Linked DNA regions of Homo sapiens: region 1 is linked to region 2. Evidence: fine-mapped expression QTL. Tissue or cell type: follicular helper T cells. Region 2 holds a variant in brackets; the other region holds the start of a gene. All regions are shown on one strand. Distances are from middle to middle.

Region 1 (2,685 bases), 100 kb after region 2:
CAGGTACAAAAATAGCCCAGGAAGTGACTGACTCTATCTGGGTAGAGTGACGAAAGGCTTCACAGAGCAATGATATCTAAAATGAATTTTAATTTCAACAGATGAAAAAGAGTTTGCCAAATCAACAAGAGGCATAGGATAGTACTAGACTGAAGAAACAGGTTGTTCAAAGGGACTCAGAAGCAGTTCAGTATTGATGGAGCACCAAATAAGATGGGATGGCAAGGAAATAAATGAGTCTCAAGAGCAATTCAAAGATTATAAATGGTTACATAACTATGCTACATAGGATGGAATCTACCCTGTAAGCAGAGAGGAACTACCTACTGTAGGCATTTTTAAAGGAGGGGTTATTTATCAGATTTTAGAATGTAATTTTTTCATTAGAGTTCAAATAAGCATTTAGTATTAAAAATTGTGAATAACAAGCTACCTTTACAAACCTAAAAAAAAATTTATTATGTAACTTTGCCTTTTAAACAGTCTTTGCCTGGTATATTATCTAGAAGATTATACTCGGCGTTTGATAAATGATGACTAAACTGCAGAAGACAGACTGAGCATCAGTGGGCATGGCGCTTAATAACAAAGATTTTAAAATGTAAAAATAGAAATGTAGACTGGCAAAAAGTGCAAAAATGTTTTAAGGTTCCTTTCGCGGGGGGGAAGGGAGGGAATAGCCTCCCTCCTTAAATGCAGACAACCTTTCTCTTAATGACTTTTTCCTTCTATATAGTTATCAGAACTTAACCAAAACCTTCTTTTCCTTCCCGACTCTCTTTTCCTTACGTAATACTCATATGCAGACTCTTAGCCACACCCTAGTAAAGCAACTTCCCCAGCATTTTCCAATCTAAGTTTATTATCTCCTCCAACACTACAGTCTTTAGCTTCAAAATTTCAAGAGTCCTCTAATGTTCTATTTCTAATATGCTCATAACCATTTCAAAATCAAATGTTGCTAGAATATCTCTATCATGCTCACTGCTACACCCTCTCCCAACCACACCTTCATCATTTGAAACCTGCATTACAGCTCCACTCTCCCTATTCAGTCCTACAAACCTCATTAAGGCAGGAAGGCCAGAATCTGGAATTACTTAAGTCCAGGTGTATTTAAAGTGCGTGATCATTCTAGAGGACTAACTCATGTTTGTCTTTGTTCTTATTGTAGACCTAAATGACTTCACAAGGGCCCGTGTAACACCAGTATTGCAGACCCATGTGTCACAAATTCAACTAGCACATTGTTTTTCTCCCCCTTCTTCTATTTCTGTAGAAGATGAATCCGCAGGCAAGAATGATGGATGGGTGAAAGGGAGGGGGAATACGAAAGCCCAGAGGCGGAGACTTCACTTCCGATTGCCACGCTATATCAAGAAAGCCAACAGTCTGGCCTTTCCGCAAGCCACAAGAAAAGGCAGATCAGACTCCCCGGCTCCTCGGGTAGTTCTCAAAGGCAAAGACAAAAATAAGAAACTAGTCTGAAGAAAGAGAGTCCCTCGCTTCTTCAGAACTCACCTGTCAAGAGCGGCGTGGACGGCGCCATGTTGTCCCGGAAAGAGAAACCGCTCGGGTGAGAGTTCACCAGGGCCGAACCCGGCCCCTACACGTCTCCTCATGCGTGGAGACAGCGAATTGGTGTTTCCGGAGCCATCAGCCTCGGGGCCAATTCACTTCCGGTTACGGAGTGACGCGGAAAAGGCGCCCAAACGCGCACGCGCAAATCTAGGGCGACGCTTGACAGAGCTTGGGAGGGTGCGCCTGCTTTCGCCCTCCTTCTCCAGCGGGAGGGGCGCGCACTTCCGCGGGGCGGAGTCCGTCTAGTGCTGACGTTGGCAGCCGAACCCAAAGTAGATCGAGGCGGCGGGCTGCACATTCCCGTTGTTGCGTTGCGTTTCCTTCCTCTTTCACTCCGCGCTCACGGCGGCGGCCAAAGCGGCGGCGACGGCGGCGCGAGAACGACCCGGCGGCCAGTTCTCTTCCTCCTGCGCACCTGCCCCGCTCGGTCAGTCAGTCGGCGGCCGGCGCCCGGCTTGTGCTCAGACCTCGCGCTTGCGGCGCCCAGGCCCAGCGGCCGTAGCTAGCGTCTGGCCTGAGAACCTCGGCGCTCCGGCGGCGCGGGCACCACGAGCCGAGCCTCGCAGCGGCTCCAGAGGAGGCAGGCGAGTGAGCGAGTCCGAGGGGTGGCCGGGGCAGGTGGTGGCGCCGCGAAGATGGTCGCCAAGCAAAGGATCCGTATGGCCAACGAGAAGCACAGCAAGAACATCACCCAGCGCGGCAACGTCGCCAAGACCTCGGTAAGGAAAGAGCGGGCGCCCCTCTGCGTTCCGCAGCCGGAGCTGAGTCCGGGTCCCTGGGGCCGCGTCGCGTTTTCTCCCGGATCCGGCCGACCGTGGGCTGGTGCCGTGGAGGGGTAGGGGCCCGAGTCTGCGAACCGCCAGACTGTGGGGGCTCGGGAACGGAAGGGGAGACCTGTGAGGTGAGGGGGCCGGCGACCGGCGTGCAGGCGTGGGAGCCTGGGGTCCGAGTGGTTTCTCTGCATCTGAAATGGTGGATTTTCGCTTTTGCAGAGAAATGCCCCCGAAGAGAAGGCGTCTGTAGGACCCTGGTTATTGGCTCTCTTCATTTTTGTTGTCTGTGGTTCTGGTAAGTGGCTTGGGGGCTCCCATCAGGTAGAGTCTT
Region 2 (2,685 bases):
AGAACTTAACACAACCTAGAAATTCTCTACCTGAGTTCATTCAATTCATGGATTACCTAGAATGCACACAGGTAATGTGTCTCTATCTAAAAAGATGTGTTACATTTTCCTGTGTTTGCACTACCTGATTTCTTTTCCCAGTGCCCAAATCAGGCAGGGATACTACACACTTCCATGCACTTCTAAGTTTTGACAATCCATTTGCTGATGGATACAATCATTTTGCATTCAACAAAGATGGAAAAACATAACCCAATTCCCAATTCCACAAACTCAGATGAGGTTTTGGGAACTCCTCTGGGATCAAAAGGTGATAACATTTTTTTTTTGTCAATTTTATAACAAAATCTGAGCCAGAGGATAGGATAAAATAATCCTCCTTCATACTCATATATTGCTTATACTTTGAGTCTCACAATACTGCAAATTTTCAGCAAAGATATTAAGACTGAAAGATGGCAAGTGACTTCTTAGGTCTCACAGCTAAGCAGCAAGTGGAGTTAGAAAGTGATCCCAGGTCATCTGACCCCATCAAATATTCTTCCCTCTGTTCCTCACCAGGGCTCACTTTGCCAAGGACCAAATCCCAGAGGGGTCCAAAGAGTATATCACTCAGACTATCCCAGGGCAAGTCCCAGCTCTCCATCAACTAATTGTGTGCCCTTGGGCAAGTTACTGAACTTCCTTAACCTCAGTTCTCTCAGCTGTAAACTGAAAAAGATAAAATCAACTTCTCATGGTTGTAGTGTCTCATTCAGTTTGGGCTACTATAACAAACTACCATAAACTGGGTGGTTTGGGTAACTGGATAAATGTTTAGTCAATAAACATCTTTTACAAGTCTGGAGGCTGGAAGTTTGAGATCAGGGTGCCAGCATGATCAGGTTCTGGTGAGGACCTTCTTCTGGGTTGCAGACTCCCAATTTCTCACTGTATCCTTACATGGTGGAAAGAGAGCTATAGACCTCTCTGGGTTTCCTGTTTGTAAAGGCACTAATCCCATTCATGAAGGCCGCATCCTCATGACCTAATCACCTCCCAAAGACCCCACCTCCAAATACCATCATGAGGGTTGAGATTTCAACATAGGAATTTGGGGAGGAACACAAACATTCAGACCTTAACATGTATGTCTGACCACTAGAGAGAATATGTGTGCAGTGCCTGGCCTGCTGTAGTTGTGCTTAGTGATGGAAACTACGGTAATAATTACAGAGACCCCAGCCTCTCACTGACAGAGTCCTTCTAACCAAACCAAGGAATTAACTCATCTTTTTTCTGGGGCTTCAAAGAATTAGAAATAATTGTAGAGTCTGAGTGTGGTGACTCATGCCTAAAATCCTAGCACTTTGGGAGGCCAAGGTGGGAGGGTCACTTGGAGCTCAGGAGTTCCAGACCAGCCTGGGCAACATAGTGAGACCTCATCTCTAGTTTATAATATAAAAAAAAGAAATAATTACAGAGTTATG[T/G]TAGATGAGAGAATTAGTAGGAACTGAAAGCTCACATCAGAAAGGAATTATTTAATTATTAGTATTAAAATAAATGATGTTAATAAGTACTAACAATAATAGAAGTAACTTTGTACCATACAAACATATTTGTTTCTCCTTTACCCACAGAGAATAAACAGAAAGTGCTACATAAAATGTACCCACACAATTTCCTTAAGCACACATTTAAGTTTTTGTAGCGTTGTTTACCAATCTTAAAACAAAGGACATTGTAAAGTATGGATGAATTTCTATTTCATTAAATTTTCTCTTTACAATAGCATATGTAAAACAGACATGGTTTAAAATAAATTACATTCTAGTGAATGGCACTTAGCCCCCTCAGAAGGAACCAATCAGTCCAGATCAGTGATCTTCAAACTTTTCCCATTTTATGCCCTTAAGAAAACATTTTAATGCATGTTCCCCCTTGCACATTTTTCAGTTGACATCTATAATGATTCATCATAAATTTAGGCGGTTGCAAAAAATGTCATTTTCAATGTATTATAAATCTTGACATTTTGAAAGAAACATTACCTTCCAAAATGAATCCAATGGAATCTAAATACCACAGTAATATAATACTTGACATTATCCATTTAAAAAATATATGAACTAGCTCTTTTTTAACAGCCAGAAATTCTGCAACATTCCTTTAATTTTCTTTTGAACTTACAGTTTCATCCTACTTCCTCCAAAGAAGTTTATTTGGGCTGTGATATATTTTTATGCTTGAAAATCTATTACTGATCATCTTCTCATATTTCTTGACTACAAAAATAATATATTAAAATTTAAAAATGTAAAAGTTTATTTTCTATGACCTTAAGGCTCTGCGTTCAAAAAAATCCTTTGATTAACATTACAATTATTGTTAGCACATAACTGATCAAAACAACATAGCAAATTTTGATGAAAGTAAAGTTTCAGTGGAAATGTATGATTCACTCTCCTTAAATTTGGTTAAACTCAAAGAATTACAAACTGCTTAACATGTATGTTTGCCAATCACTAGGGTCACTGATTTTCTCAACATGGATCCCTTGGGTGGAGACTTGGAGGGTTGTGCACCTGGTACACTCCCTCAGTGAGACACCATGGTGAGGGGTCTGCCATTCGTCGTAAATGGGAGACGAAGAAAGAGCCTACAGCTTCATTACACACACAATCTCTGTCCATTCCCATTTAGCGA

Evidence for each region. PIP is the estimated chance that this variant, and not a neighbour inherited with it, causes the effect.
Region 1: EIF2A starts here. The variant in region 2 is fine-mapped to the expression of EIF2A in follicular helper T cells (Schmiedel 2018, PIP 0.95).

What each region holds. Positions count from the first base shown.
Region 1 is chr3:150,545,667-150,548,351 of GRCh38, reverse strand. It overlaps EIF2A (eukaryotic translation initiation factor 2A), which reads right to left and starts at 1,565. Exons shown (of 14, transcript NM_032025.5): 1 at 1,522-1,565. The coding sequence starts at 1,549. It overlaps SERP1 (stress associated endoplasmic reticulum protein 1), which reads left to right and starts at 1,856. Exons shown (of 3, transcript NM_014445.4): 1 at 1,856-2,300; 2 at 2,574-2,649. The coding sequence starts at 2,217. RefSeq lists enhancers at 1,258-1,797, 1,070-2,269, 1,715-2,345.
Region 2 is chr3:150,648,479-150,651,163 of GRCh38, reverse strand. No RefSeq gene overlaps it. Among named protein-coding and RNA genes, the nearest start is that of SELENOT, 46 kb to the right of the region's middle. The variant T/G (reference allele first, on the strand shown) is at 1,470.